6 separate regions of the Homo sapiens genome follow, and all the other regions are linked to region 4. The links come from fine-mapping of genetic effects on gene expression. A gene starts in region 4. Each other region holds a variant in brackets. All regions are shown on one strand. Distances are from middle to middle. Region 1 overlaps PKP4-AS1 (PKP4 antisense RNA 1). Region 2 overlaps PKP4 (plakophilin 4). Region 3 overlaps PKP4 (plakophilin 4). Region 4 holds the start of PKP4 (plakophilin 4). Region 5 overlaps CCDC148 (coiled-coil domain containing 148). Region 6 overlaps PKP4 (plakophilin 4).

Evidence for each region. PIP is the estimated chance that this variant, and not a neighbour inherited with it, causes the effect.
Region 1: its variant is the best candidate, but not a certain one, in a credible set for the expression of PKP4 in putamen (GTEx, PIP 0.64).
Region 2: its variant is the best candidate, but not a certain one, in a credible set for the expression of PKP4 in sigmoid colon (GTEx, PIP 0.61).
Region 3: its variant is the best candidate, but not a certain one, in a credible set for the expression of PKP4 in whole blood (INTERVAL, PIP 0.59).
Region 5: its variant is the best candidate, but not a certain one, in a credible set for the expression of PKP4 in whole blood (TOPMed, PIP 0.80).
Region 6: its variant is the best candidate, but not a certain one, in a credible set for the expression of PKP4 in whole blood (TOPMed, PIP 0.77).

What each region holds. Positions count from the first base shown.
Region 1 is chr2:158,724,714-158,729,910 of GRCh38, reverse strand. The region is part of intron 1 of PKP4-AS1 (PKP4 antisense RNA 1); the gene reads left to right. Among named protein-coding and RNA genes, the nearest start is that of PKP4-AS1, 7.7 kb to the left of the region's middle. RefSeq lists an enhancer at 4,661-5,160. The variant C/T (reference allele first, on the strand shown) is at 2,813.
Region 2 is chr2:158,545,340-158,550,536 of GRCh38, reverse strand. All of the region lies in intron 2 of PKP4 (plakophilin 4), which reads right to left. It also overlaps the pseudogene RPL7AP22. Among named protein-coding and RNA genes, the nearest start is that of PKP4, 91 kb to the right of the region's middle. The variant C/A (reference allele first, on the strand shown) is at 2,601.
Region 3 is chr2:158,656,316-158,661,512 of GRCh38, reverse strand. PKP4 (plakophilin 4) reads right to left here. Exons shown (of 22, transcript NM_003628.6): 12 at 3,199-3,382; 13 at 63-180. PKP4-AS1 (PKP4 antisense RNA 1) reads left to right here. Exons shown (of 4, transcript NR_135242.1): 4 at 1-3,176. Among named protein-coding and RNA genes, the nearest start is that of PKP4-AS1, 76 kb to the left of the region's middle. The variant A/G (reference allele first, on the strand shown) is at 3,003.
Region 4 is chr2:158,454,387-158,459,583 of GRCh38, reverse strand. It overlaps PKP4 (plakophilin 4), which reads right to left and starts at 2,632. Exons shown (of 22, transcript NM_003628.6): 1 at 2,366-2,632. CCDC148 (coiled-coil domain containing 148) reads left to right here and starts at 2,831. Exons shown (of 14, transcript NM_138803.4): 1 at 2,831-3,169. The coding sequence starts at 3,145. LOC124907900 reads left to right here and starts at 1,450. Exons shown (of 1, transcript XM_047446754.1): 1 at 1,450-2,453. The coding sequence starts at 2,130. The coding sequence ends at 2,453. RefSeq lists an enhancer at 1,273-1,352 and silencers at 1,633-1,852, 1,883-1,942, 1,963-2,012, 2,263-2,312, 2,533-2,902 and 1 more.
Region 5 is chr2:158,391,039-158,396,235 of GRCh38, reverse strand. The region is part of intron 1 of CCDC148 (coiled-coil domain containing 148); the gene reads left to right. Among named protein-coding and RNA genes, the nearest start is that of CCDC148, 63 kb to the left of the region's middle. RefSeq lists a silencer at 876-1,029. The variant G/A (reference allele first, on the strand shown) is at 2,250.
Region 6 is chr2:158,491,099-158,496,239 of GRCh38, reverse strand. All of the region lies in intron 1 of PKP4 (plakophilin 4), which reads right to left. Among named protein-coding and RNA genes, the nearest start is that of PKP4, 37 kb to the right of the region's middle. The variant C/T (reference allele first, on the strand shown) is at 2,189.

The sequences.
Region 1 (5,197 bases), 270 kb before region 4:
TGCATTCCACTGTAATGCTCTTAATAAGAACTCCAGATTGCTCAAGCCATGTCCCTCTCATGATACCAGGCGCCCCTGTCACCCAGAAGATGGCCCAGAGGACATGTGCTATGGCCCAGCAAGTGTGCATGTCATGGGGATCCAACCACTCTGGCCCTTTCCTCACCCAGCATATTGATTCCTCCGGAGTGTCAGACACTGTGCTGGGCCCAAGGGCAAAAGCTGTCCCCAGGCCCCTCTACCACAGGAGACCGGCCAGGACACACTGAGCATCTGCAGGAGAGTTTAGGCAGTCCCCTCCCAGGCTGCTCCACGCTGGCCCTTTCTGCTCCTGCAAAGCTGCCCATCCATCTTGCTTTATGGACTGCAGAACTGCCTCAAAGGCAGACACTTGCCCCTGTGGCTGAGGAGCAATGAGCTGTCCACTGGCAGCTCTCCCGGCAGGAATAAAAAGACTGTACTTCAAATAAAGTTTCCTCTAAAAAATAAAAAATAACAAAAATAAGGCACTACCCCGGTGTTTCCCATATGTGAGCCTGCCTTTTACGGCCTGGATGCTTGACTCTCATTAGCATTGCTGAAGAAAGGCTGTTGACTGTACACGGGGGCAGCTCCAGGACTTACGTATTGAGGGATTTGGGGGCAGTGTGGTGGTCAGAGAGGGTGGGGTCTCTGCTTATTGAGCACACTGGCTTTTGGGGAGATGCTGATGGAGAATGCAGAAGGGTAAGACCCTCTCCCATCACCTCCACCAGTTCTTGGCAGCATCCCAAATTAAGCCTTTGTTCCATGAATGGAGCCAGCACTAGGAACCAGGAGTGCCGCATGCCAGTTCCAGCTCTAATTAGCTGGGGGACTTTGTACAATTCCAAAATTTTCCTAAGCTTTAGGATTCTGCTCTGCAAGGAGGTTGGACTTGGACCACATCGTCTCTAAAATCCCTCGAAATGATTCTAGGCCTTGGAGGAAGAAAAAGAAATTGGAGATACAGTTTCCATCCAAGGGAACACTAATGATGGTGAAACGATAGCACCACACGGAAACATTGATGAAACTACAAATGGTGAAAGTCATGGAAAACTCTTGCTTTTTGTCCACCAGCATCTACCCCCATTACTTCTGGCAATAGCTCCCGATTTCCATTTGGGAAGGTCACGAGGTTCTGCTTCCAGGGATGGAACTCATGACCTACAACATGTCCTGAGTCCAGCCACTTCTCGCCAGCTCTGTCACCACCCCCGTTCCAGCCACTACTGTCTGGCCCCTGTGGCCCCCACCCCTCTCCACATAGCAGCAAGGGGGCTTTTCCAAGCATAACTCATGTCATGCCTCTTCCCTTCCGAAAAGCCTGCAGACTCCACCATGGTCAGAATGAAGCTCTGTCTCCTCCCCATGCCGGCAGGGCCCAGCCTCCCATGGCGTCTGCCACTTCCCCACCTCTCCTCCCCTTGTTCTCTGTCAGTCTACTTTCCTCTGTCCATACTGGCCACTTTGGCTCTTCCTTCACCAGCCTGGCTTATTCTGCTTCAGAGCCTCTGCACTGGCCCTCTCTGCCTAGAATATTCTGTGCCCGGATCTTCTCGCAGCTTCTATTCTCATTGCATTCAGGTCTCAAATGTCACCTCCTAAGAGAGCCATCTTATTTAAACAGCACTCTACCCCATACCCCACATCAATCTCTACCCTCTGAATCTGCTGTAGGTGGTTAATTTTTTTAATATCTGTTATTTCCTAATTTTGTATCATTCTGTTTGATGTATTTGTTTGTTTTCTGTCTCCTACTGGTAAGTAAGCCCCAACAGAGCTTACTGCCTTGTCAATATTATGCCCCCAGAATGCACAATAGTAGCTGGTACATAGTAGATGCTCAATAAACACTTGATGAGTGAGTGAATGAGGTCAATCTGAGCATTCAGTGTCCCAGACATATTGGTTGGTTCTGGTTTGGGGGTCACATGACTTAACCTGGTCCAGGCAGAGTGAATCTCAGGACTTTGCCAGAGCACTGGGTGACAGGCACCTACCTGCTTTGGTCTGCTGGGCTAAGTGTTGTTACGGTGTGAGGCTGAGGCTGCCAGAGCTTCCAGATGGAGTCAGGAACAGGGGGCCAACCCAGGGGAAGAAGGACCAAGGGGCAAAACCTGCTGGCATTCTTAGAACCTGAATAAAGCCATACCTCAAGCTAGAACTTTCTATGACTTTTCTAACTAATGTGAGCCAGTTCATTTCATAAGCACTGTCTAGTTAATCTTCATACAACACCAGAAGAGTTCTGCTTACCCACATTTCCCAGATGACAGAATCAGGCTGAGGAAGAAAAGTTGAGTGACTTAGTCAAGGTCACACAGTCAGTAAGGGTCGGGTTAGGGCTTGATTTAAGGTCTTCTCGCCCCAGTGCTGTGTTCAGTATTCTCCTCCCCAAGGCCTCTAATGGCCCTTTTCTGGGGAAGGCAGCAGCCTTGCTGACATGACAGAGCTGGGCCAGGGTGGAGTCAGGTCAGCCTCGCAGCAGAGCAACCTGTTTGTGTTATTTCTGTTTATATAGGGCTTTTCTTCAAAGCACTCCACCTGTTTTTGCAAATAACTATTACAAGCCTTTTCTGCAGCAAGTCAAGAAGAGACAAGGCAAAACAATGGCAACAGATGTTCCCCAGCCTTAGAAACTGGTGAGTGGCCATGCTTGTCAGCTGATGCAGCTGACAGAGCCCAGATTAACAGCACAGGCCTCTGTGATCTGTCTTTGAGAAGTGACGTGGCACCTCACAGATGTTCAGTCCTCATTGTCCGTTGGCCCCACCAGCAGGGTATGAGA[C/T]GATGAAACTCCTTATGTTTTAAAGAGTGGCCAGTGTCTGGCCTTTGTCCCTTCCAGGCTCCTCTCCCAAGAGCTCCACTGGGGACGGCTTTGTTGGTCTGGACCGTGAAGTTCAGCTGCCTCTGCTGGCCCTGCTCCAAGGATGAGCTTTGTTTCTCTGAGCTGGGTTCACACCATGTGAGTCCTGGGTCCAACTCCTAAGCCTGAGGTTTCCCAGCAGCCACCTTCAGATTGACTGCCCAGGTGACTGTTCTCAGGAACAAGCCTGCAGGGAAACATCTCAGCCACACTTGTGCCTGAGGTGGCCAAACAGCATCTAAAGGACTCAGAGGAAGACCAAGGGGTGGCCTAGGCTCCCCTGCCGAGCCCCCAGGCTCTTAGTGAGGGGTGGGAACCATGGGAGCTACCTCCATTCATCCATAAAGCCTGCTCAACAGCCCTTTCCTTTCCTGGGCCTGGTTAAGAACCTGCAGTGCCTCTCACTTTGCCTCCCAGCCAGGCCACTGGGTTCCTTCCCAGTGCCTGCCTGCTCTGTACTTGGACCAGGGCACAGCTCAACCTGAGTCTCCTACCTGGGTGGTGGCACCTATCTCAGCATATGGCCCTGCAGAATGAGGCTGAGAAGCTACCTAGTGGGCAGTCTGAATTCAACTAGTAAAGATCAGTTGAGTTCTCATGTGGACTCAAGTATTCACTTCTTTGGGCAGTTCTCAGAAAACCAGAGTCTAGACAGAGACTGGCCAGTTTTTGTTTGCCTTTGGCTAGAACCCACTAGGCTTGTACTAAATGACCATCTGGCTGCATACACATAAGGGTCAGGTAATTCCTGTAAATCCACGGTCTTCAAGCACAGAGGTGCATCAGATTCAGGCGGAGAAGACTGGGCTCCGCCTGCAGGGATTTGGGTGCTATGAGTCTGGGATGGGTTCACTGCATGTTTCTGCACCCCCACACCCCAAGGCCTTTAATTTCATAGACATAAAGAAAAGTCCTGCAGATATAAGGAAATGAGAGGTGATCTCAGTTGATGGGGGAGACAGTGGCCCATCAGCTACTAGGTTTCAGCTGAAGATCAGTACAGATCCCATGTTGCAGAGAAGAACAGAGCCAGTGAGCAGAGCTTCTCCCTGGCTTCTCCATTCTCTTCTTCACAGGAGGGGACAGGAATCCCCTCATAATTTGTCCCTATGACAGCCGAGTTGTCACCACTTGGGGAGCAAGGCAACCCCTGATGTCATCAGGTGCAACACATAGCCAAGTGAGCCCAGCGCTGGCCAGGCATTGGTTATGCACTGCACACACCCAGCTCTTTGTCTGGCTCACTCCTAGCCAGACTGCAGAGGCATTTGATAAGTGGCAGCCATTCAAAGCCAGAGGGACTCTACCCTGTTAAAGGGATGCCACTCTCAGTCCTGATGGAGACAGCGAAAGGGTGGATGTCTTTGGGAACAGCCTGCTATAGCAGGAAGCAAGCTGTGCATTTGTTAAAGGATCACATTTCGCCCTTGGGTTAACTGGCTCGGAGCAAGCAGTATCATCTCTGCTCTGGGAGGTTGTTTGCATAGGCTTTCTCCGCAGCTCTACCGGGCCATGGGCGGCCATAATATTACTGTCAGCAGTAACAGCTGGCACTTTCCAGGTACTCAGGAAACTTATTAATCCCCATTATGACTTTATCAGGTGGGCACTAAAATTACCCCCCGCCCTTTAGAGATAACTGAGGCGCAGAGAGGTTAATGACTTGTCTGAGAGCCCGTGCCAAGGGAGTATCAGCTCTGGACAGTGAACCCAGGCAGTCTTGCCTCTGGAGTTCTCCACGGCTTGGACAGGAGAACAGGGCACCAAGTGAGTCTCAAGTCTGCCAGGCCAGTGCTCAGGGACCCATCCATTGGAGGGAGTGGTGAGGTGGGTACCATTTGCCTCGTGGGATGGAGCAGCTGGTGTAGTCTGGGCACTTCAGGTCAAGGGTTTTGTGACTAATGCCACAGATATGTGATTGGGTGACTTTTTTTTTTCCTTTTCATTAAACAAATTGTAAGATTAGTGACTGGGGCATTCCATAAACGCACATCAGAGTGTTCCAGAGAGGTGTGGCTGCTAGGGCAGAGAGAGAAGGCAAACACCAGCCACCTGAAGGGCTGGGGGAACTCCAGCTTCTGCTTTCCAAAGACACAGCTTCCAAGAACAGCAAAGAGAAGCCAAACCAAGCTCCAAGGAGCATGCCCTGACAGCCGGCTGCAGATCCCGTCCAGGGTGGCTGGGCTGTTGCGGTCCTAGAGGATCTGTGGGTCCCTCTCTCCCTCAGCCAGGTGTCTGGACACCTGAGCAGCAGTCCCCCTCCAGGGTCCCTTCCCTGCCAGGCATCAGAGCCACAGGGGAGACCCA
Region 2 (5,197 bases), 91 kb before region 4:
GGGAGTCAGCCCTGGTGGTAAAGTGCTTGTTGGGTCACACTGTTTGTCCAAGGACTCACAACCACCGTTTGAAAACTGCTTTACAGAACATTTTCTGGGGTGATGAAAATGTTGTATATATTGATTATGGTTACATGACTACATTCATTTGTCAAAACTCATTAAATTTTATTTTACATAAATTATACCTCAGTAAGCTTGCCTTTAAAAACATTAACACACATGTCCATATTTTCTTTTTATTAAGTTATGACTTTGTAAGCTATAAGTGACATTCTTACAACTCTGGCAAAATACTGCTATAGATTCATTCATGAATCCACTTTGATACACATTACAAATAGACTTCTGTGTTTGAAGCAACATTTTTCCACATTAATAGATTGTTTAACTTCTTCTTGGCAGAAAAGTAATGTTTTATTCTGAGAGATCTATAAATGTAACCTTCTTTAGAGAGCAGAGCCATAGATGGAGCCTCAGGAGAGTGAGATTTTGATCTTCCGTCTGTGCCTGACCCTCCTATGTTGGACAATACTACTCCCATTAGCGACACTGCTATGAGATAAAATATTACTTACATTAGGTTGAATAATTTTAAAACTACAACCATGCATTTATTAGGCATAATCTTAAGTAGTTTTCACAACCTAAATGTTTTGTTTCTGTAAATTCACAGAATTTAAGCAATAATGGAAAAAAACATGTTTTATGAAAATAAACTACTATCCCTTCAATAAAATCATCGGAATTAAATCAAGAAAACTTTTTAAACTTTTGTGAATAAATGCAAAATATGAGTGTTGGAATATTAATGACCCTTTCCATACTGGTCAACACGGAAGATTAAAATACTGGGCTATTCAGTTGAATCAATCTTTACCTCCTCCCTCTGCTTATTAAAATATTATAAGAAAAAAAGTTCTCTGTTTTGAATTCCAAGCAGAGGGGCAATGGCACCTAACCACCTGCAGGCCCAGCAGCCCTTAGTGTGTGGAATAGCAAAGGGTGGGGAAAGAGGTCTAAATCTAGGGGTGGCGGTGGGAAGGAACATATTCAACCAAAGCACTCGTCCCTCACAGGGGCGTAGGTGAAGGGCCACTAAACGATTTCCCAAAAACTCTGAAAAATATTATAAATAAAATTTAAAAGGATTAAAAAGCAGACTACACTGACTCAAGCCTATTTTTTAGACATGAAATAAAATATGATCCACCCCTGTAAAAGTACCATTCTGATAATACTGAAAACTTAATTTATTTTTGGAAGGAGAATTTTTGTTATTTTTATGTGCAGAAAACTCAACCGTGTACATTTAACCCAGTTTAGTGGCAAGTCCTTTAGCGTTTGCCCTTTCCAGCTTGGCAAAGCAAGCCACAGACTTGGAACCCAGGACACTGCCTCCCCAGTGATGGCGGATCTCATCATATCTATCATTGTAATTGGTCCTGATAGTTTCCACCAGCTAACCGAAGCTCCTTTGTCTTCCAAGTTAACCTGTGTGAAGGCAACAGTGGTGCAGGGTCTTCCTATGCACAGACATCCCAGGCTTGCCTTCCCCTTGATAATGCAGTCAAGGACCCCCATTTTAGGACATAAGGCAAGCAGGAAGACAACTGGCTCAATGGGATCCATGTCATGTGCGATCACCACCAGCTGAGCCTTCTTGTTCTCCAAAGGTGGTGACAATGTTAACCCCTACTCGAAGGACAGGTGGTCTCTTAATGGGGATGTTCCCTTTGCTGGCAGCTTTCTTCTCAGCCCAGGCCAAGTCTCTGCTTCTTCTCTTGCTTTGTCTCTGGTCAGTACTTATGGGCCAGCTTAAGCAGCTGAGTAGCTGCTTGGCGGTCCACGGCCGGGGTGAACTGGTTCATCGCAAGAGGCACTTTCAGCTCTGGATAGAGGACAGCTCTTTGCTGCTGCAACCTGATGTAGTAGCAGGGGCATTTGACAAAGTGGGTTAAGATCCCATTTGGGCTAGATGTCCTATCCAATGCCAAAATTCTCAGGTCTTTTCTCAAACAGGGGATCCATCACTTTCTTGGCCTCCTGCTTCTCTGCAACAACAGGGGCCAGGGCCACCTTCTTCCCCTTGGCCTTCTTTCCTTTTGGCATCTTGGGTGGCTGGAGGAGTGAAACTTAACATTTATGAAGTTGAATAATCTAAAGGAATTTCTTCAGGGTTAACATAAAGAAGCCAAATAAAAATATTAAATTTCTCCACAGGGTTAAAATTTTACTTATGCACAAATTTTGTTTTTTCATAAATATGAGTATAACTGTTCCAATCTTAAAATACTCTTGAAGCATAAGATGTTATTTCCATAATCCTGGTCCTCAAATAGATGAGTCAGGCTTGATTTTATTAAAACTACCAATACAGGCTCCTTATGTTATTTCAGTAAAATTGTTTCCTGTACAGAGTACTCCACAGGCAGTTAATTGTCTGAATCCCTGTCTGCCATTCAAAAGGCTTTATTCTAGTCATAGTGGATTACATTGCACATATTTTTCTCCAATAGAAAAATAAATGTTAAGATGAACAAATCTAAAACAAAATTTTTATATCCAACAGCTTCACCCAGCCTCAGCACAGACTTGAA[C/A]TCCGGTCTTGAGCCTTGTTGGCCGACTTCACGGAGCTTCACTCCTCGACGCTCAGCCTAATGTGTGGTCTTGTTTCTTTCACTCAGGTGTCTGCTCAAAAATATTTTATGAGTGCCCAATATTAAGCTGCATACTGGAGTTTTGTAAAACAGTGTCTATCCAAGAGTCTGTGCTCTATGGAAGCCGATAATCTAGTTTAAGCCAGGGTCTTACTGTGATTCTTAAAAACATGTTAATGTGTTTTAAAAAGTCAACTTTATTGAGATATAACTTACATGCAATAAAATGCACCCATTTTAAAGGCACAGCGTTAGGGGTTTTACTAAATGTACACAACAACGAGCCACAGCTCCAATTAGATTCAGAATATTTTGGTCATGCCACCACCCCGCAAAATTGCCTTAGCTTCTTTGCAGTACTGCCCCTCCCTTTGTTCCCCAGCAATCATGGACTTGCTTTCTGTTGTTACAGATTAATTCTGCCTGCTCTAAAATTTCTATCAATGGAGTAAATCAGTACGTACTCTTTTATGTTTGGCTTACTTCCTTCACTCAGCAGATTTTTGAGATTCATCCATGGTGCATGTATCAATGGTTGGGTTCTTTTTTCTTGTTGTATGTTATGAATATAATTTATTAATTCACCCAGTGACAGATAATTAAGTGGTTTCTAGTTTGGTGGGTATTTGTGAATAACAGTGCTATGAACATTCTAGACAAGTTTTTGTGTGGACATACTTTTTCTTTTATTCTTAGGTGTGACCCAGGAGAACTGCTGGGCCATAGGGTAAATGTGTTTAACTTTACAAAAAATTATCAAATTGTTTTCCAACATGGTTGTGCCATCTTACACTTACCACTGCCCCCCCATGGCCCAAAAATGTAAAAGTCATCTTAGGTCATAGGTGATACAAAAATAGGTGGTAGACTGAATTTAGACTGTAGGCTATAGTTTGCTCCTTCCTGCTTAAGAATTTTCTATATATACAATAATATCCTTTGTGAAAAACAGAGTTTCACTTTTCCTTTCCAGTGTGTGTACCTTCTACTTCTTATCTTACTGCATAAAAAAGAGGCCTTTTTACTTACTGTAGCCTCTCTGTGAAGCCAATCCTCTGACCTTTTCTTCTCTCAACTTTGAGATTTCAGCATTTCTGCAATGCACCAGGCCTGGTTTCGTACTGTCTCTATGTCTGTAAATCACATCCCCTTGCTCTTTATCCTTAACCTGTGCCCACCTCAAAGATCCCATGCTGTTTTTCTATGCTTATCTTCTATCCTCTGAGCTGCACTGTCTGAGAGGAAATCTTGTTCTCAAAAGTGAAATTAGTTTGAATTTGACACCTCTCTTGGGCTGCCTACTGCTACATTTTTTGGCTCATGCCCTATGGTGCTACTTCTCTCAACCAAAATTTCACGTTTCTTTCCTGTGTACTGAGAAGGACAACCAAACTCCCAAATATCTTGTGATTACTTAAAAAAAGAAGATTTCAAAAGCATCAGGTTTAAATATGCAGTGCTTACTATTTGTGCCATCTAACCATCTTTACCTGGGCATTTCCTGTTTGCAGGCTTCACTCTGAAAGCAGTTACAGAAGAGACAGTTTTCATAATCTTGCAAAGAGAATAAAGCAAAAATCTGAAGAAAAATGACGTTTGAACAAATGGAAACTATATGACAAAATAAATTGGGAAAAGAACATATGGCAAAAGAATCTAAAAAGATTAATATTTGAAATCAGTCTTTTTCATTTTATTTAATACCACTTAAAGTATACTAAAATTCTTTACTTAACTAAAATTCAGTTCAAATAAAACCCAGAACAGATACACAAATTCAGAATACATTTCAGACAGTCAAATACAAAGAATTTAATGGGCAGTATCCAAATGTCAAAAACATATTCTGGGTACTAAAGAGATACCAATTTAATCTGAATTTACATTTCATTTTCTTCAAGATTCAAACCAGCAAGAATAATTCAGTATCTACTACAACCAAAAATATGCTTCCAATTTTGAAATATTTTTAAAAGGCACTGTATATAAACCTTCCTTAAGAGAGGAACTATATGCAAGAGAAATTGAGTCTTAGAAATTACATAACAAAAGTAATCATAATTCTTGGCATTTATGAAAATATTTTACCTTCAAAGAATTTTTACAAACACTAAACTAATTAAATTATGCAATACACATGTGAAATCTCATCATCAGTTTACAATTAGGAATAACTATGGTACCAGGTTTAAATCAAGCATAAACCTAGGGGGTAAATATGCAGTTATATATGGATATAAGAATGAGTAGCTGTAATTATTCATGGATATGATGAAAAGTGACTAGAAACAGGTTTAAATAAGTATAAGATTATGAACTGAATGCAAGTATTATTAGGAAAATCCTAACCTCTGCAACTGCTTAGACTCCCTAATAGCTATGCTCTATCAAAAGTATTAGGCTCATGAGATTTTATTAGTGCTCAACAATATTTAACAAGGGCACCTGACCTTCAGCGGTTTATGACTTAAAAGAACAGATTTATTCATTTCTCAAAATTTTAAAACTTCTCCACCTCCCTTTCTTTCTCGTCCTTA
Region 3 (5,197 bases), 200 kb before region 4:
AGTGGCACCAGGCATCATGGTCACCTGCCACCACGCCCTCCTGCAACCAGGCCGGCACTGACCTTGCTGTCGTAATCGGATGTGTTCACACACGTGTGGATCACATACAACAGTGAGTCTACCAGCCCCTCGCAGGACCGCATTTGCTTCCGAGCTTCTTCCCCCGCGGAGCTGAGGTTCCTAAAGGGGTGGAGACAGGAGGAGCTGCTGAGATGAACCATGCACTCATCAGCCACGTGGACTTAACCTTAAGGATCTGAGAGAGCGAACAACAGGTGGCAGCCACTTAGAGGTCGGAGGAGGCACTGGGGGCTTGCATGGTAACATCCTGAAGCTCACAATGATGGCCCGCTCCCCATTATCCACACATGGAAGGGAACCTGCACATTTGGACTGTATCTCTCTCATGACGTGTCACTTTCTAATTCCCTCATATAATTCTTTAGGGGCCTATTCTCCTGAGGTTCTTCATATGTAAAAGGGGGAAAATAACAGTAACTACCTCACAGGGTTGCTGTGAAGAAGAAACGAGTTGCTACATAGAAAGCAATTAGAAAAGTGCCTCCTTCCCAGAAGGTGGCCTGCTGTCAGTCATGGTGGTGGCTACTACTAGACATGCTTCACCTCCCTTGTTAGGCCAGAAGCTTCTTGCAGTCCCCTGGGCCTATTATAATATTTTGCGTGCAGTAAGTAGGTGGTCATTAAATGTTTTTTGGATGAACAGAGGAAACATATAATTTCTTGTATTATAAACATTTCAAGTTAAATATAGATATTTGCTTATGCTAAAACTTTTCTGATCTTTTCAATTATAAAACACCCAGAAAACGGTTTTGTGTCTAAATTTTTTTATATCAATTTGCCTTCATAAATTGATACCAAATAAGGATCTATTTTATGTCCCATTAACAATGGTTCTAGGCTAACTGTAAAATTATGCAAATTGAGAATTTGCAAAACTGTGACTAGATGAGGGGGCGGTGGAATGGCGGCTCTCATCTGCCCTGCCTCTCCGCAGCACTTTCCTTTTCTCCACAGCTTCTGGGACCCCACCTGGCTTCTCTCTCACCTTGCTACTTCTCAGACTCATCTGCCCATGGGCACCTCCAGGAGTGCCCCAGGTCCTGTCTTGTCTTCATCTTTGCACTCTCCAAGGTGCCTTCTGCTCCTTGTCTTTAATACAACCTATGGACACAGGGCCATAGGTTGGCACACATCTGCCTTTAGCCCTGACTGCTCTCTAGAATTGCGGATTCTTTTCTCCAATGCTTTCTTGACACTGGCACATAGACAGCTAATTAGACTTCTCAAACTGGACATTGTCAAAACTCTGAGCTGCTCACCCTTCCAAGCATTCCTGTCCCTTCCCCCCATCAACAGCACTTCTGTGCTTGCAGCTGATCCAGCCAAAGATCTAGGTGTATCCTTATTTCCCCCCTTTCCTCGCTCTTAATATTCGATCTATTAGCAAGCCTTGTCAGCTCTTCCTCCACAAAATAACCCAAATCTGCCTACCTCACCCCAGCACCTGGTTTAGGCCACTCTCACTGTTTGCCTGGATCTCTGCAACAGTCTGATGTTCCTGTCTCTACTTCTGCCTGTACTCACTCCTCCACACTGCAGCCAGAAATGAGGCCCACTACTCCACTGCTTAGAACACTCTGATGGTTTCCCATGGCACTTGGAATAAAATGCAAACCCCATCTGACTTACAAAATCCTATATAATCTGGTACCACTCTGCCCTTTGCTCAGTAGGCTACGGCTGCAAGCTCATTTCTGCTCCAGAACCTTTACCTTAACCATTTCCTTGACTGGCCTATGACTCTTGTCTTCCCCAACACCACCCTCTAGTGAGTCACTCCTTGTGGTATTTCAGATGTAGGCTTAAATTTAAACTCCTTGAGAGACCCCCTGACCACCAAAGTAACCATTCAATAACCCTCACATCACCCTATTTGTTTTTATGGCACCTACTGTTATTTTCTTGTTTCCTTGTTTGTCTGTCTTCCTGGTAGAATGTGGTTCCATCAGAGCAGGGATCTAGTCTGTTTTATTCGTCACTGGTTTCACACAGAGGGCATTCACCAAATGTTTCTATCCCTGACCCACTGGGGGAGCTACAGTGAGTCCTGCCCCAGGCTCTCCCTGAAGCCTAGCTGGCTGGCTGAGGAGTAATCCTAGCTCCCTGGATGATTGCTAGGCCATGAGACCCACCCTGAGATGTGGGCATCTGAATTAGGAGGAGCTGGCCTGCATTCTGGGATCCTGACTCTTGTTACCTCCCCACCAACACTGCCCCCTGACCAGGGCCGATAGCCACCTGTCTCAATGCTAGAAGGCTGCAGACCAGCCACACAAGCTTTGCTCTCTTTCAGGCTGCCTGTCTTGGTGATGCTAGATGTTAAACAGCACTCACTGAGTGCTCATGCGATGACACTGTGCTAAGCACCTTCCACAAGTACCTGCTGACCCCTCACAGCTCTGAGGTGGTATTATCATCCCTATTCTACAGATGAGGAAACGGAGGCTCAAACGGGTCCTGGAAGCCAGGTGGTCTGAGACCAGAGCCCACTCTCTCTGTCCCTGTGCCACTCTGCCCTAAGGCTTGCTTCCAGTTCCCAGGGTACTGTAAGGCTGGGAAATAGGGTCAAAATGGAGCTGATGAGTGTTAAGGGCAAATAATGAACTCTACTGTGCACACTCGAAAGAGGCTTTATATATAGATTTTAACTGTAAAAGATAATGACTAAAAAAGTATTTGGGCTCATTTTCACTTATTTATACAACTTGAAACTGATTGTTTAAATCACACACCTCTTTAAAAGCAAAATGGTTTTAACCATCACATTTTGAATTTAAACAAACAGCAGGCTGCAAACACATTAGCAATCAGAATGCGATTACCAGAAAAATGCTGTTAAAGTGGAAAACACTGGAATTTTGGCAGTAATCTTAGACTGAAAGGGCCTTTCTGAGTAAGTCACAGAAGAGTCATTTACA[A/G]GATAACTTCTTTAAGGCCACAAGTCTGTGCTCACGATGTTTTTCTCCCAGAATAACAAAGTCCAGTGGCCTAAATTTTGAAATAAAAACTGGAAACTTAGATAGATGTTAATAAAGTAAGTCCTCCTAAAATCAATTTACCTATGACACATATTTAATCACAGAATTAACTGGAAAGAAGAAATAAAGAATTTACCTTAGGCAACCTGTCGTGTTACGCAGAACTAGTGAAGTCTGAAATTTAATTTTATGATCATCATCAAAAGAAGAGTTATTCCATCCAGAATGTGGAACAATCACAGTGTTTGTTAAGGTTGAGAGAGCATCTCGAATGATTGTCATTTTTACAGCATCACATGAGGATAAATTCCAAAGAACTCCTAAAAAAGGAGATTTAAAAAATCAAACAAATAGAGATCCTGTGGCTTTAGAAATAAAATAAACGTATTAGCTCTAATTAATATGAAGTCAGTCTGTTCCAAACCTAATCTATGGCCTATATTTGCAACCAGGGTGGGAATAGACCTCTAATGAGTTTTGAGTGAAGGTATGAGCCTCCGACAACATATTACAAATTCTTAATATTCACCCTCTTGGATTTTAGAGGGTGAATATTATACACCCTCTGTATCTATTAGGCAAGGTGACTGTGGATTTTGCAAAGCAAATTAGTTACTCTGCAAAGGGAGAGGGGCACAATCCAAGCAGGGGTCTTGAATATAATGCATCTGTGATTTTTACAAAACTGCTATTCATTGCATTGTATTTTACATTTAATGTCTGTGTGACAAACCATTTTTAGAATTTAGTACTTGGAAAAATATTTCTTTTTCTTGAAAGACTGGCATGTTTTTCTTCATCTGCTTCCTTTTCTTACTTTTGCTATCAGAAAGCTCAAGCTTCAATAAAGCACTTGCCGTAACTTTCCTGGCATGGATGTTTGTTATATTTGCTTCATCCACCTTACTTAGATAAGGTTTAAACACTTCTATCTCAATTTTAAGAGTTTTATTATCATGTGCTTTAGAAACACACGTTACTGTCATTCCTTTTTGGAAATAGGTGAAACTAACAATAAATTAAGAATCGCCTGTATTGTAATTCATATCAAGATTTCAGGATAACAGATCTTAAATGGAGCTTATTAGAGTTCTGTTTAATGATATTAGAGGGCCTTAATTTTTGCACCAAGTATGAGGTAGCTAAAATTATTATCATAGCACAGGTTTTCCAATAATTGCTCTCATAGACATTGGAGCAAATTTGAGATGATACCTACCCTAATGTCATTTTCACATCAGTGCATCTTCCTGAGTAAGAGGAAAGTAGGTGGAGAAGAGATGGTGCAGCTGGTTTTTCTCTGCATTCAAGTCCCCCCCAGAGTCCTACACTCCTGACATACCCTTGGCAAGTTGCTCGAGTCTGTACAGTGCTTTCACAACTACCAACACACAAAAACGTTTGTGGCCTTGCAGAGGGAGGGGTGGCAAAATCTGCCCATGTCCATGGGAGCGTGTCAGGCTTGTGAACATGACTGATCAAGAGCGTGGCCCGGAGACAAGACTGAGCACTGCTGCTCCAGCTGTCACGGCCCAAGAAGCCAGCCTGGACACCACCTGCTCAGCCTTCTCTGGGTGCCCCCTGTAAAAGAGGGTGGTATGGGGAGGAAGACAGGAGCTCCTTCCTTTGTGGAGGAAGGGGATGTAGAAGCCAAGGGCTAGAAGTGAAGAGAGTGAAACAATCTTCTGACTCTAAACTGCGTGAGGACTGCCCCTTCCCAGGCCTGTCCATGTGCTGTGGAGGGAATGGTCGGACTGGAACCTGATGCTTGTGCTCTGGCCTCCTCTTGTGTTCTGCTCTGCACCTGTGCCCACAACTCTCCTCTTTCACTTGGCTTTGACTTCTGGACCTTGCTGATTTGGTTTCCCTTGTTCCCCAAGGACTTTTACCCCTTTTCTACTCCTATTCCACCATAACTACAGCCTTCAGGACACAGGACGGGCGGGAGACTTAAGACAGTTCTGAATCAGGCAAGTAAAGACCTTGCTTTACTTCCAAAAGCTTGCTCTGTTCTTCTTTTCTTCTGTTCATGATAGACCTTTGCTTATATAATTATCTTGGGGTACACAAAAGCTAGGGTCCCGTTAGAAGGCAGCACGCATTATGGGTGCTTATGAAAAGAACTTAAATTCTAC
Region 4 (5,197 bases):
AATTAAACCTCTAAATTAGAAGATTCACTGATTATGCACATAGCTGAAAAACAACGTAGCAACCAAAACATAAACGTTTCTGAGTGCAAAATATTTTTTTCTATTTTTTTTCCTTTCTGTTGAGTCCTTAACTAAAGGCTCCTATTTAATAGTTTTCAATGTCCATGATCTACACAAAGTAGGTGTTGGAAGAAAGCTGATTGGTCAGACAACTGACTTATTATTTTACTGAATCTGACATAAAATAACCAGGTGCAAAGAGGTTTATCATAAATGCAACCTGCAAAGCAAATTGTGTCAAATAAAAACACACATATGATGCTTTTCAACACCCAGAAACACTTATTTCAGACATTAGTTGTTCTCGTTTTCATGTTGCCATTTTCCATAACTGTTTCACAGGCACCAAAACGAAGATACTCCTACAGCAATATACTGCATTCAAGAAGAGAAGCATTCTTCTAGTTTCTCTTTAAAAATAAAAAGAATCTAAGCTCAATTCTAGCGAACCATTTTCTGTCAAAATTTTGCTCTCCCGTATTAAGGAAAACAAAATTTGACCAAAAATGCATACTAGCCATCATTGATTTTACACGTAAATAATTACCGTTCTTTAAAACTTGTAGGGCAGCATTTATTTTTTTTTTTCAGTCAAACTCAGTAACAAAGAGAAAAAACTGAGACCTCCACTAATAAATTACATCTTGAAATATACATGATTGTGGTGTCCCCGTGTTACTTTCAATGGTAACTGACACGTCCCGAATTTAACTGTACCAGACAGTTCTATCTGTCCCATCGCTGACCGAACAGTGCTTCTCTGTTTCTATTCATTATGTATTATACGAGGTCTAAACACAGCCCAGTATGACGAGGGAAAAAAATTACACTTCTTAGGATACCAAAGTGATGCATTCAAGATCTCTCTCGCAGTACATGCCCGTGAGCACTAACAGGCATTTTTTGATAGAGCTAAAATATGTTGGCTGCAAGCTCATTACTCTAACAACCTTCAGGCCCCCTGTTTCTGCTGGTTTTCAGAAAACCCTAGTGAAAACCAGGCACTATCCAAACCTTGCACACCAAACTTGCCAACAGCCCTGTGCAATGATCAATAACCTTGGCTACACAGTCATCGGCCCCAAATTCACGGTCCTGAAGACCAATGCAGCAAAAACCCAGACGAAAGGCTAGCTGGAGCCCCAAAGAATTACCGCGCTTCCCCTCTGCCGCATGGAGGGAAGCTATGGGAGGAGAGGAGTGGAATGAGGCTCACCAGCTCCGAAGATGCTCCGGTGACCTCTGGCTGCGCGGCGAGAGCTGGGGAGGGAAGGCGCTAGGGCAGCCGCGGCGGGCTGTGTGGACTCTGCCCCTGGTGCATTCCTCGCATTCCTGCACAATCTGTCGCCAGCCCAGGAGCCGGCAGCGCGCGTCCCCCGCTGTACACACACACCTGACTACCGCTGCGCCCCGAGCGGCCACGGCCGCCGCGGCACCTCCACTGCCCGCGCTCGCGGTGTGTCGCACTCAGCCAACACGCAGCCAAATCCCGGCCCCGCCGCTCGCTCTCCGGGTAGCGGTCCAGGGGAGAGGGCCGGCAGCCTCGGCAGCGGGCGGGGATACCAGATCCGCCAGGGAGGTGCCGCAGCTCCGCTTCAACTCCTGGCAGGGAGAGGAGGAAGCGGCGGCGCAGGAGGGCAGCGGCGAGGCTCGGCGCTGGGGAGCCGGGAGGGGTGGAGCGTGAGGATCCGCGGCCGGTAGAGAGGGGCGCACTAGGCAGAGGGGTGGGCAGGACCGGCAAGGAGTACAGGACTTCGGGGACAAACGCAAGACCGCGCGGGCAGCAGGGGCGTGGGAAGACGGGGAGGGGACCAAGGTGCAGGATCTGGGGCTAGAAGGACAGACAGCCGGCCCCGAGTGCTGAGGAGGGCGGGCGCCCAGTGGTGTCGAGGGCGACTTGGGGCGCGCGGCGGCAGGCAGCGGGGAAGCCGCCGCGAGGGCGTCCAGCAGGGCTCAGCGCGGCGCTCAAGTTCGGGGCTGGGAGCTCTGAATCCGAACAGCCCAGCGTGGGCAGAGGTCGTGCGCTGCGCGTACGGGAGACCGGGGAGAGGAATCGCCGGGAAAAGCAAATGGAGGGTGAAACTTGTGCGCCTGCCGGGGGGAGGGGAGCAGCAGGCGAGTGCGGGCAGGAACACGAGGCGGGGCAGGAAAGCCGCGGCGGCCGCGAGGCGCTGGGGACGCGGCAGCGGGAGGGAGGCCCCCGGCCCCCGGCGCGCAGGTCCTGGCCCTGGCGCGTGTTCGGGGCGAGGGCCGAGGGTCTCGTGGGCAGGAGTCTCCGCGCCCTCCCGCGAGCCCACACACTTACTTTCCAGCTTAGGCAGCGGCCGTCGTCGCTCCAGGGATCAGGGACATCGGCGCCGAGGGGTCGCCGCTGCGGCACCCGAAAAAATTAAAAAAGTGCCGCGGCGGCGCGGCTGCCCGCCCCTCCCTCCCCCACCGGCCCCCGCCCCCGGAGCGGCTCTCCCACCACCCCCGGCGGCGGCGGTGGCCAACTTGCCCCTCTACCCCTTGCCCATGGTGCCGCCTCCGCGGCCGGCGTCGACGCGGACTCAGCCCCGGAGCCCCCTCTACTGCCCAGAGGCCGCCGCCGCCGCCCGCCCCGCTGCCAGCCCTCCCGCCCGGCCAGCCCCGGGCTCCCGGGAACGTCAGCACGCCGCCGTCCCCGGGCCAGCTCCCGCCACCCCATTGGCGGGAAGGAGAGGGCTGGCCCTCCCCATTGGCCCGGCCCTCATATTGAACAGGCCAATGGGAGCTGCGGTTTCAGGTCGCCATAGAGACCGATGCTGTTCAGCGCGAGAGGGCCTGGAGAGGGTGGGTGTGAGAGAGAAGGTGTCTCAGGTCTCGGGCGCGGGAGGGGGTGGCGGAGAGGACAGGGAGATTCCCCAGCGCTGGCTCTGAAATCTGGGGCAGGCTTTCCTTGCCTTACTGCCAATCCCAACTGTGCCTGGTAGGGTTTGTCCCTGGCGTCAAAGGTAGGAACAGCTGAGCCCTTAGATGTACCCCTGACGGCGAGAGCCCAGGAGTGGGCGTTTCACTTTTCCTGCGTTTGGGGAGTCCCTGAGGCTATGCCCTTTGACCTTTGACATGTGTGCAGCTTCTGCTTCTCCAGGTGAGTTTGCACCCCATCCCTTCCATCGCTGCTTCCTCCTGACGTCACTGAGCCACCTAAATCCTACTTATGTTTGTTCTCTGCAGCCACTCCCCCTTCCCTGGGGTGGATCTTTCCTCAACGTTTTGGGTCCTCAAACTCATAACTCTTCTGAAAGACTCAAAGAGGATTTCCTTTGAGGATATTTTGGTAAGGGAACGAGGTGGCGGATTGTATGATAGATGCCAAAGCGTCAACACATGAGCTAGCCTGTTCCCTGATTCTCAAAGCAAACCTCTAATCTCCCTGTGGGCAGATATTTATTAAACACATCTGTGTGTACATCCCGCACTATGAGCTTGACAGGTGCATGTTCTTTCACTTGAGAGGTTACAGGCTTGTTAAAGATAGAGGAAACAGAAACAATCCTTCACACCTTGTGATGATTTCACAAAAGAGTAAGGGAAATGGATTACAGTTGATGGATTTTGTTTTCTATTTTCCAGTATCTCTTTAAATTTGATATGGAAATAACCTGAGGCATGAAATCAGTACACGCAAAAATCTTGAGCTTTAATAATGTCTTCTACTTTCATTTAAAATCATTTTGTGGTGGTTTATCAATACTAATTGTTTTTTGTCAATAAATTTTATGTTTAGATATCACCTTCTTAAAGTGAGATTTCATGAACATATTAGGCTTTAAAAGATGATATTGCTCTAGCCTATAGCCACTGATATTCTTACATTCTTTTGGCGATTTTACTTTTTTTAGACTAATCTCTTTAGTAAGGAGACTATGTTACTACCCCTCAAATTGGAGGGACCATATTGTGTGAAAAAGCTGATAGGATTTTGGAAATTACAAATATTTTGTTGGGAGAAACAGGTTAATGTGTGTGCAAGCTGCATATGTCTAAGTATTGTTCTGAATTTTAAGTTGGGTGATATGCTTTGCTACTGGTTTTTATCTTACTATAATTGAAGATTACAAAGATGTAACCTAAGAAATGTTAATATGGTGCCTTGATTGGAAAAAAAAAAACCTCTCCACATTTGTAGTAAAATGTGAACTCAGTTGACAGTCCTACACAGGGTAGGACTGTGGAACAAAACAGGTGAACGTGTGTATGTTCCCCCTAAATATTTTCAGAATTGAGAAGGGATCAGCAGGGGCCAGGAAGTGCTGTGCCATGGCTGGCCATCATGGAAATAGGCTGTTTTTTACTTCTTCCGGCTTTTTAATGTGTGTTTTTGTTTATAGAACAGAAAAAGTAAACCACAAATTGTTATATGAGACACATGTTTAATGAAAAGATACCAATGATTTTGCTTCTTTTAAATTTCAATAACATCAAATGAATGAAAGTTGTGTCTAATGGAAAGAAAAAATGGGTCTTTTCTCTTGCCTTAGGCTAGCATAGAAAGAAGAAAATAAAAGATTATTACTCCAATAATCTTTTTGTGTGGGTGTTTTTCTCAGATGACTATTTTGATATTGTAGATTTCGTGTTTGTCATAATTAAAATGTTACTGAAATCCACCATGAATAATGTCCCCTGAAATAAGTTGCCACTCAACATTAATTTTTTTGTTTATTTTTGTATTTAGTTGAAAGGTTTCTTTTGAACTTGCTCCTGCGCTACTAAGCATTGCTAGACAAGGTTAAAGAATCACTTCATTCCACTAAAAGTTCATGCTATTCAGACTTGGCTGTGTCTTCACTGATTCTCAGTTCCTTTCCTCATCAGGAGGATGATTATCTGGAACACTTATCCAGGAACATTATCCAGGCCACTTCCAAACCTGTCCAATGTCTGCTCTCCTGAAGCCCCCACTTTACGTGGTTTTCCTGCACTTCTGCAAATGATCTTGCCTCGTACTCTACTGAAGGATCCACCATGAGGTTCCTCAACTTAACTTTCTTAAACCTCAGTCCTAGTTTTCACACATCTTCACCTCCTTCAGTCATGGCTGAGAAGGGTGACCACATTTCTCTTCAAGGCTCATACTCCACTTATGCTCCTAAACATGAGCCATCTTCTCTCT
Region 5 (5,197 bases), 63 kb after region 4:
ATTTTATATAATATTTCTCAATTATTAAATATTGGCATTAGATGCAAATGAAAAGCTAAACAAAACACTGTGAGGGTTAAAATAATTATGTCTGGGGACCAAGTTGGGCCTGATGTGTTACCTCTCTCAGGGAAAAATTTTGGAACATTCAAACCATGTCAATGAGTGATGACACAATACAATAAGAGATATAATCTTCCGTATTGGCCAGTAGTTGGACTGTCCTTAGCCATTCCATCAACAATTGCTTTACGGAAGACTCTGGGGAAATCCCAGTTTATTAAATGTTGTATAAAGACTGAAAGAAATCACATAAGTAATAATGATTGTATTCTTAAGCCCCTACTATGTGCCAAGCACTTTGTATAGCTATTTTATTTAATTCCCATAACATTCCTGTTAGACATGTGAGGATAGATATTTGAGAGGTCAAAAAATAATAGCAGCAACTTGCCAAAAATGTATAGCTCTAGCAAGGGGCAGTGTGGGGTGTGAATCCAGATGTGCATGATTCCAGAGCCCTTTGTCTTCCTGCTCAGCTCTGCTGCCTTTACAGTGACATATTGCTGTGAAGTTGGCATTATGCTGGATCTCACATAGGCAGGGAAAGGCTGTCCATGTTGTTCAGCATGACTTTCAGTTTCAACAAGGAGATTCCTCTAATCAAAATTATCTTTGTACACTACCAGAAATTATTCCCTTTCACATTATCACTCAGGCTGAAATTTGAGCCTTTACAGATTCTTTAGTTTTAACAAGCATACTCCTGTGTAGGTGCCTGCTCAAGCAGTCTTTCCTTCATTCACTTGTTAACATGAAGTTAATCAGATTATATCCTTCAAACAACTAGCTGAGATAATAGGAATTTCCCTGGACAGCAGGGAGGAGGAAGTGGCTCTTCAGAAATATGTGTCATTGATTAGATGGGGTGACTGGGCTGTGGAAGTTGGGATAGGCCCTGTGTACCACGGGCAGGTTTCTGGCTGCTTCAGAAGCAGAAGAGTGGGCACAGAAGTTTGTTAATTATGTTACCTTTTGCCTAGATCTGTCCCCTCAACTAGACAAAACCATATTATTGGCTGGTGTTTTTTATCCTATTATATTTATGGTACAGAAATGTAGCATTTTTTTTGGCTGTGAATTAGATTTTGAATATTTTTTATGTTTCTAAAATAAAACTATTATCTTTAGAAAATTAATGTTCTTTTTTCCTGATTAAGGAACAGACTCTGTCAATAATTAAAGAGAAAACAAAGCTGAAGAAATAATCACAAAATAGCTCTCTCTAAGGGATAGGATTATGGACTTTCAATGTATTGTTTGAATTTTTTATAATAAGATAACTCATTTTAGAAGGAGAACAAACAATAGAGTTTTGGCGTTGGAGGAGGGTGAATGAAAAATTTCTTAGTTGTCAGGGTGTAGTCAGAATGAGGTGGGCAAGTTTTACTGCCTGTGAGTTAGCATCTGTGATTACCTCAAGGAGAGAGGCCCTATTGAGGGTATGAGGCTCATGAAAGGGAACAGAGGAGGGGCCGACTCTCCAAGTTTTAGTTGGTCTTTCCTTCTCCCTACTTCTGAAGCCCCAAGGAATGTGGGGTTTCTCCACAGTTTTTTTTTTTCCTTCTGGAAGTGAGAATGAGAATTTGGAAGAATTCAGGGTGATTCAGTACTCAGAATTCCCTGACATCTGTTAAACCTTAGTACTGACTGTTATTTATTAGACAGCTTTGCCCAAAACAGCCCTAAATGTTTACTGTGCCAGCCTTCCTAGAGTTTGCTCATGCCTTCTTGTAACCTGAATCCTACCTCCCAAGTTTTTAGAAGTCTCAGAATAGTTCTATTTTCTTTCCCTTTTTGTTCATTTTAGATATCAGCTATGAAAAATTTTATTCTTTCATTTTGGTTCAGATGCAGCTTGGGATCCTCAACTTATTTCCCTATTTATTTGTCAATGGAAATTATTGCTTTGCCTTACTATAATACACTGTCTCTCTGCAATTTCTGAATTTTCTAGGAGTAGAAGAATATATGCAAATGTTTTGCATATATTAGTGCATAATAACTAAGCTTTACCCTCTGTAAATAAACTCAAAACTGATGGACAGTGGTTGTAAGTGGAATGAGTCAGGTGATAATGACTTATCCATTTGAACCTTAAACATACCTCTTTGGTCAGTCCTCAGAGTCCCTTACTGGTATTGAAGAGTAAGAGATCTACAAAGAAGAATATTAGGATCTAGGAACTC[G/A]GAAGGCTCTTTGGTCATTAAAGGCAAAATGACAATCACATCCTTTAAAATCAAATTTGTTATATAATTATTCCATTTGTCTATCCCACAGATATCTGGTATAAGGAAAGGCTTTTATGGGTGAAACTGTTCTATTTTTTGTGATACTGTTGGAGAAAAGACCCATTTATTTAGTTCCCAAGAAAGGTTATCTATAGCAATGTCTTTTAATATGACATGTTCCTCAATGATTTCTCTTTAAAAATCCATCCACCTCTGTGATCTGCTCTCTTGTCAGCTCATCTATTTAATTTTGGCTGCCCTTTTCAAAATTGAAGCCATCGGTGTTCTTGGCATCAGCAGATTTCTGTCAATCCTCTTTTTATCAGTTTTTTTCTCTGTCTGTATCTGAGTCTGCCCACTTGGCCCCCTAACCTGTAGCTACACAGAATTGCTTGCTTGTACTACTTCAAACATATCCCACCCTTGTGGCCCCATCACTCAAATATCTGTGTTTTCTAAGGCCTTCCCTTTCCCTATAATTGATGAAAGCCCCCTGCTATTAAAGACTCACCTTATACATCACCTGTCCTATCTTTCTCCACCTTGGCCCTCCATCCTAAGCAAAATTAGGCTATCTGCCTTTTGTGCTCCAGTAGCATAGCTACGATATCATGATCTCTGCCTCACTCCACAGACCAGAGTTCCTTCATGTAGAGTACAAGATGATCCAGGCAGCATTCGACCTATTTTTATTGATTTGAAATCTAAGGCAATATGGTAAGCTTTTCTAATGTTTCATGTATACATCCATCCTGGCACCTTCACTCAGTTCCCCTATTATTCCAGGTTTGCTCTCACACATTTGCTTATATTCAGCATATTATGAAATGTTATAGTTATTTTTATCTGGTTTTAAGAGGATTTACAGATTATGTTAACTTTTTTTTTTAAACTAAAACTACCTTCACAAGATGGACAAGTATCTTAAATATATTCCTACAGAAACACCCTGACTTGTAGATAATACTTGTAATGTAAGCACACAAATGACAGGAAAAAGCCAGAGCTGACTCCTCTATACTGCTACAAACACTGTCAGCAATAGCATGGCATGTGGTTGTGTGCAGTCGTATGCAATGTCTCTGACATCAGGCCCATCACAGTAACAACAACAGTAGCAATCCAGTAACATCTTATAGAAGATTTAAAATGACTCAGATAATTTAAAATATAGATTTATATCTGTGTTTCACTATTGCTGTCTAGTAACATTATCTTAAGGGTTTATTTTGCCCTGAGAGAGTAGATGAAAGTAATATAGTAATACAAATAATTTATATAGTATATAGTAATGCAAATAATTTATGATAATTGTAATAGTTTACAAATATAGGTTTAGTATCCTTTATCCAAAATGCTTGGGACCAGAAGTGTTCTGGATTTGGGATTTTGGAATGTTTGCATTATGCTTACCAGTTGAACATCTCAAATCCAAAAATCTAAAATCTGAAATACTCCTCCAGTGGACATTTTTTTGAATATCATATTGGTGCTCAAAAGTTTCAAATTTTGGAGCATTTTGGATTTTGGGATTTGGGATGCTCAACCTGTAATAAATATTCATTATTGACAGAACATGCTGAAAAGTGCATTAGTAGGCATATGTAATAAAAAAGTTACAGACCACTACTATGAATTTAGAGATGAATGCCCAGAGCTGTTGCAGAATAGAGACTGTATTGTTTTCATCTTTGTAGCTCAAGCGCCTAGCACAATGACTGGACCATATTATATGCTCAGTAAATATTGAATGAGTGAATAAATCAATAGAAGAATGAATATAGGATGGGGAGTGTTATAATCTCAAACTAGAGGTGAGAAACCAAGATGAAAGAACCTGATGACTCAGATGCAGGAAGTGGATTTATGTCTGAGTATGCAATGAAATTATGACCCTTCTGCAGCGTGAATTTATCTGGTGAAGTCATCACTTTCTGTCTCATGGGGAAAGGGAGATACTGCCAGTTGGGGAGAATCTGGGACTGTTCTCCTTTTGATTTCACCCTAAAACTGCCTCCTCTTTTTCAGATCCTCCTCCAGGTCTCATCCCCTCACACCACCACTTGTGCCCCTGTTACCAAGGAACCTTTATTGCCTGATATGCTCACCTGAATTACTGAGTGATTTTGCTTATGTCTGTGTAATCACAGTCCCAAAGCTATTTTCTGATAAATGATTACAACTTTACTTACACAATTCTGCAAGCCCATGCCTCATCCTTCAGTATAAGTGAAAAGAATCTAATTCATGTCATGATATTGCAACAAAAATTTCACCTTAGGCCTCAATTGTTTTACTATTTAAGAATTACTTATCCTTGGATGTTGTGGGTTCCTAATAGAGGGATCTGTTAATTATTTTTATTCTTAAATAATAATAAGTGCTGAGGCAAGCAATATGGACTAGCAATATACTTGTGTTTTCAGAAATAAGGAAAGATCATTTTTCTAATATTTTAATAGAGCAAAACAATTTCAGCAACTAGTAGTATAAAGTCTCATTACTTGGGTAGCAAATGTTTAATTCATCTGTGTCATCTTGGTTAAATGTTCTCTAAAATTTTATGATAGTTATAAGCTTAGCTTGTATGGTTTAGGAGTAGTAATATAGGCAATTCACAAGTAATATTGACCTTTTAATTAAATGTTCATGATAAATATAGAATATCCATTTTGAGCACAAATATTTTTTATTACATTATTGGGAAAGAGTTGCAGCCATCAATAGTAAATGGAGCTTGCCCTTCTGTAATTCACGGTTCATCATCACAAGAGGCCACTAGACAGTAAGCACCATGAAAGCAGGAAACATATCCTTTCACTCACTGTTGTAGCCTCCATGCATAGTAGAGTGTCTAGAATGTAATAAGAATACAACAAATATTTTGTCAAATGAATGAATGAAGT
Region 6 (5,141 bases), 37 kb before region 4:
GGAGGCTGGAGCAGGTGGATCACTTGAAGCCAGGAGTTCCAGACCAGCCTGACCAACATGGCGAAACCTGTCTCTACTAAAAATACAAAAAATTAGCTGGGCGTGGTGGCACGTGCCTGTAGTCCCAGCTACTCAGGAGGCTGAGGTGGGAGAACTGTGTGAACCCAGGAGGTGGAGCTTGCAGTCAGCTGAGATTGCGCCACTACATTCCAGCCTGGGTGACAGAGTGAGACTCCATCTCAAATAAAATAAAATAAAATATTTTCAAGTAAAAATGTATACAAAAAAGAAAATATATGTTAAAACTGATATTGATTTACCATAATGAAAGGTTAAAAATATATACATATATACCCCTCTTATTTATTTATTTATTTATTTATTTATTTATTTATTTATTTATTTAGAGACAGAGTCTTGCTCTGTCGCCCAGGCTGGAGTGCAGAGGTGCAATCTCAGCTCACTGCAACCTCCGCCTCCTGGGTTCACACAATTACCCTGCCTCAGCCTCCTGAGTAGTTGGGATTACAGGCACCCACTACCACGCCCAGCTAATTTTTGTATTTTCAGTAGAGTCGAGGTTTCACCATGTTGGCCAGGCTGGTCTTGAACTCCTGACCTCAAGTCAGGACCTCCTTGGCCTCCCAAAGTGCTGGGATTACAGGTGGGAGCCACGGCACCCGGACACTCCTTTTTTTTTAAACATAGTTATTACTAATGGCTACAAAAAAATTCATTGTCTGATGTACTAATATTTAGAATTTTTGAGAGTATAAGCGACTCAGCAGAAAACAGTTTTTGTCCACTTGTCTGATTATTTCCTTATATAGCACATTAGAAGTGATGAGCCAAGTGAACTTTCTGGGCTTTGTTGTTTTTTTTTTTTTTTAACTCTCCAGAAGAATTGTAGCAATGTGAGTCCAACTTGCCAACGCTCATCCACATGAGGTTTTATCATTCTTTCCAGTGTTTGTCAGCCTAATCTGTGAAAAAAATGGTACTTCATTTTTATTATTTCTTTTGAGACGGAGTCTTGCACTGTCACCTGGGCTGCAATGCAATGGTGCAATCTCGGCTCACTGCAACCTCCGCCTCCTGGGTTCAAGTGATTCTCCTGCCTCAGCCTCCCGAGTAGGTAGGATTACAGATGCCCGCCACCGTGCCCGGCTAATTTTTTGTATTTTTAGTAGAGATGGGGTTTCACTATGTTGGCCAGGCTGCTCTCGAACTCCTGACCTCATGATCCGCCTGCCTCGGCCTCCTGAAGTGCTGAGATTACAGATGTGAGCCACCGCGCCCGGCCACCTCATTGATTTAATAGTTTTCCTGACTACTAAAAATGCACAACTTTAAAAAAAAAAATAGAGCAATGATCATTTATTTCATCTCATTAAAGTTTTTGCAAAACCTCTAGAGGTAGGCACGATTCTCACTTCACTGATTAGGACATAGGCTCAAAACAGTTTAAATATCTGCCCAAAGTTAAAGAGCAAGCAAATAGCAAAACTAAAATCTCTATTTGGTTATAAAAAATCATTTGCTGTTTGCTTACAAATTAAAAGAACCATTAAGTGCACTTTATTTATAATGGGGATATTTAGTACTTTGAAAAAGTCTTTGCAACTGGTCTAGAAAATTTCATATTAAAAACCTAAATAACTGAATAATGAAAGTAATCTACTACCATATTTTAAAGTGCTTTACTATCCATGATTACCTAGTTTAAATATGTTATTACAAAACAAATCATCCTTAATGGTATTAATCATCACTTCAGACATATCAGGTTCATAATTCGCTCATCTACTTTCAAATAACTAACACATTTTATTTATTCATATCATTGCAAATAACGCTGTAGTTTACAAGTATATTATTTGGCACAATTGATATTTCAACTAACTTCAAGTAAGACTATATAAAGGTCACATTTTTTAGGGCTGTTTCTTGTTTTATACAGAACCCATTTTCCCCTCCATAAGTAAAAAAAAAAAAGTACATAATATAAATATATACTCTGCTGTCCTAGAGTAGTAGAAACATAGTGAGATGCCTAAATTGGTGTAATGGATGAGCTTCTTAGTTGAAGTCGAATAAGCAGTATGCTAAGTACAAATAGCTTTTCCCTTCTCATCAGTGTTTACCTTTTAAAGTTCCTAAACTGTATTAAAAAAGATCCAACTTTTAT[C/T]ATGGCAAGAATCTGCCTCCCTCCTGATAAGACTGAAATGAAAATGTCAGCTTCATTTTAAATGAATTTTGCACCCCTGGACTCCATTCATTTCTTCCCCAAAGACCAAGAAATATTAGTAGTGCAATCAATAATCACACTGGAGAATGAAAGAAGACTGAAAAAAGGGGTCCACAAGGGTGGGGAAAGGGGGAGAGTGAGGGAAGAGGAGAGAAAGGCAACAGTAAGACCTAGATTAGCAGGAAAAGCTCACCAGTCCTGAAACCTCAAGGAGGAAAGCATGTTGCCAAGTGAGCAGCACTCACAAAACAGAAGCCCAGGCCAAATGCTGCTCAATGCCCTCATGCAGCAGTGCTAGACACCTACAGGGACTAGAAGCCTCTTGAGACCTTCTCAAATCTCTCAATTTGCTAACGTCACTGTGTCACCGACTTCAGTTTTGGAAGAGGGCTACTCAGGCATTAATGACACTGTGCAGCAGGCCTAGAGAGCAACCAGTCCAGCCTGGAAAAGGAGGACAGGTGGCTGGTCCCAAATGTGAGGGTTAAATGGGATTCACTGATGAGCTGCTAGGGTAACCACATGGAAAATGGCACTAAGAGGCTAAAGGAGGGTGTGAGAAGATTTGGCTGTAGATCAAAACGAAGTTAAGGAAATGGAAAAATGAGGCAGGTATTTCCACTGGTGGAAAAAACACTTGGATTTAAAAAACGATGAGAAACTATTTGGCTCACTGGTGAATGATATATATAGTCAAAATAATGGAAACAATAAATAGTAATTTAATAAAAAATTATGATCTGTCATTATTAGGAAAACGGGAAGACAGCAAAGGGGTATAAGGCAGAGATTCTCATCTATGTATTAACAATAATAGATAATATCTAAAATTAATGATTTAAAAAATAATATGTTATTTAGAAATAAGGAGATGAGTATCAGAAGAAATAGACAAAGTAACTGAAAGTATATACTTCTGGCAAAAAGAATGAGACAAGGGGGTCAAAGGACTGTTATAATTTGTTATAAGGCTTTCAATATTTTAATTTAAAATAAAAAACTAAAACAAACATTAAAAATAAACAGTTTAGAAAATAAATATTATTAGGTAGGGAGGAAATAAAGGTTATGTATAAAGACTATGCCTATGAAGCATAATCCCCTTTTCTTAAAGAAACAAAACCAAAAAGCTGTTCTAAATGATGAAATTATGGGTAGTCCATCTTTTGGTTAGTCTGCATTTTCTACTGTAAACACGTATAACACTTCTGTAAGAAGAAGAAAATAGTAATGTTAAAAGGTACGCAGGAGGAAAATGGTCAGCTGGAAACAGAACTTAAGTAGTAAGAGTCAGAAAGACAAAAGGAGACAGAAAAAAATACTATTGTAACAGGCAAAGAAGGAAAGCAATTTTCCCATGGAGTGGGTTGTCAAGTGTTGATGGGCAAGACAGATGAAGAGTATCCTCAGGAGCAAAGCCCGGGCAGGGTGGCAGGAGGGGAAGCAGGGTGGCGGAAGCCAAAGGGAAACGGGGTTGGGGTTGGTGTGGGGGAGAGGGGGTGCCAGTACAGCTCTCTGGAAGTGAAGGCAGGTTGCTGGCTGTTGTTAAAATCTGAGGAGACAGAAGATACTTAAGGAGAAGCAACCAGTGGAGAGGAAGCAACTGAGATTAAGACAAAGATGATTCCTCAGCTAAAAAAAATTAACTTCGCATAACTTGCTTTTTCGGTTTCTTATTTTTATAAGAATATGGGAATATCTGAACAGGGGGAAGGTGTGAGATAGATTCTGAGGAGTTTCCTATTCCCTGTGATGCCTTGTTTCACTCTGTGGGCAACTGAGGCCATTAGATTTTTTTTTTCAATCAGGGCAGTGACACAACGTAGACTCCAGGTGCAAGAGAGCCAAATTGTATAAAGTAAAACTATAAAGTTAAAAAAAGGGGCCCGGTGCAGTGGGTCAAGCCTGTAATCCCAGCACTTTGGGAGACTGTGATAGGAGGACTATTTCAGCCTAGAGGTTTGAGACCAGCCCTGCCAAGATAGCGAGACATCATCTCTACAAAACATTTAAAAATTACTCCAGCATGGTGATGCGCACCTGTGCTCCATCTACTTCACCTCTAGCTACTAGGGTGGCTGACATGAGGGGCTGCTTGAGCCTGGGAGGTCGAAGCTGCAGTGAGCCATACTTGCTTCACTGTACTCCAGCCTGGGTGACAGAGTGAGAACCTGTCTCAAAAATAAAAATTAAAAATAAAAAAGAAAGCACGAAGAATACCTTGAGAACTAGGGCTAGAGAAGGATTTGAACAAAACCTTCAAGCTATATGGCTGGGGTGGGGGGTGAAGGGAGAACAAACGATGATTTTGATAGCACATTTAATGATTTCTGTTCAATAAAGTTTACAGACAAGTGGGATATTAAAGACTTTTGTAACGCCATAATAAGGGATATATATCCAGAATATAATGATGTCCCTCAAATCAACATAAGATTAGAACCCCCAGTAGAAAACTGGGCAAAAGGTATGGACAAAAAATTTACAGAAGAGGATACCCAAAAAAAGATAACAAGCAGATGAAGACATTATCAAGTTCATAAGTAGTCAGAGAAATACAAACTGAAAATGAGTTGATTTACACCTGGCAGACTGAACCACGCTAAGTGTTGGGTTGTGGAGACATATAGATGGATGCAGCCATTCTAGAGAGTATCAGCACCGCACAGCTCAGGCAAAGTAAGAGTACTGATAGTCTATGATGCAGCAATTCTGGTGCTAGGCATATTTCCCACAGAAACTGTCACACAGGTCCCAAGGGATCACGCACCCCTTTTTACGATGGTGAGGAGGTGAATGCAATCTAAATAACCATCACAGAAGGAGGGGAGAGATAAAACTGGATGGATATATATCATGAAATACTCAACTGCAGTCAGAATCAACAAGCTAA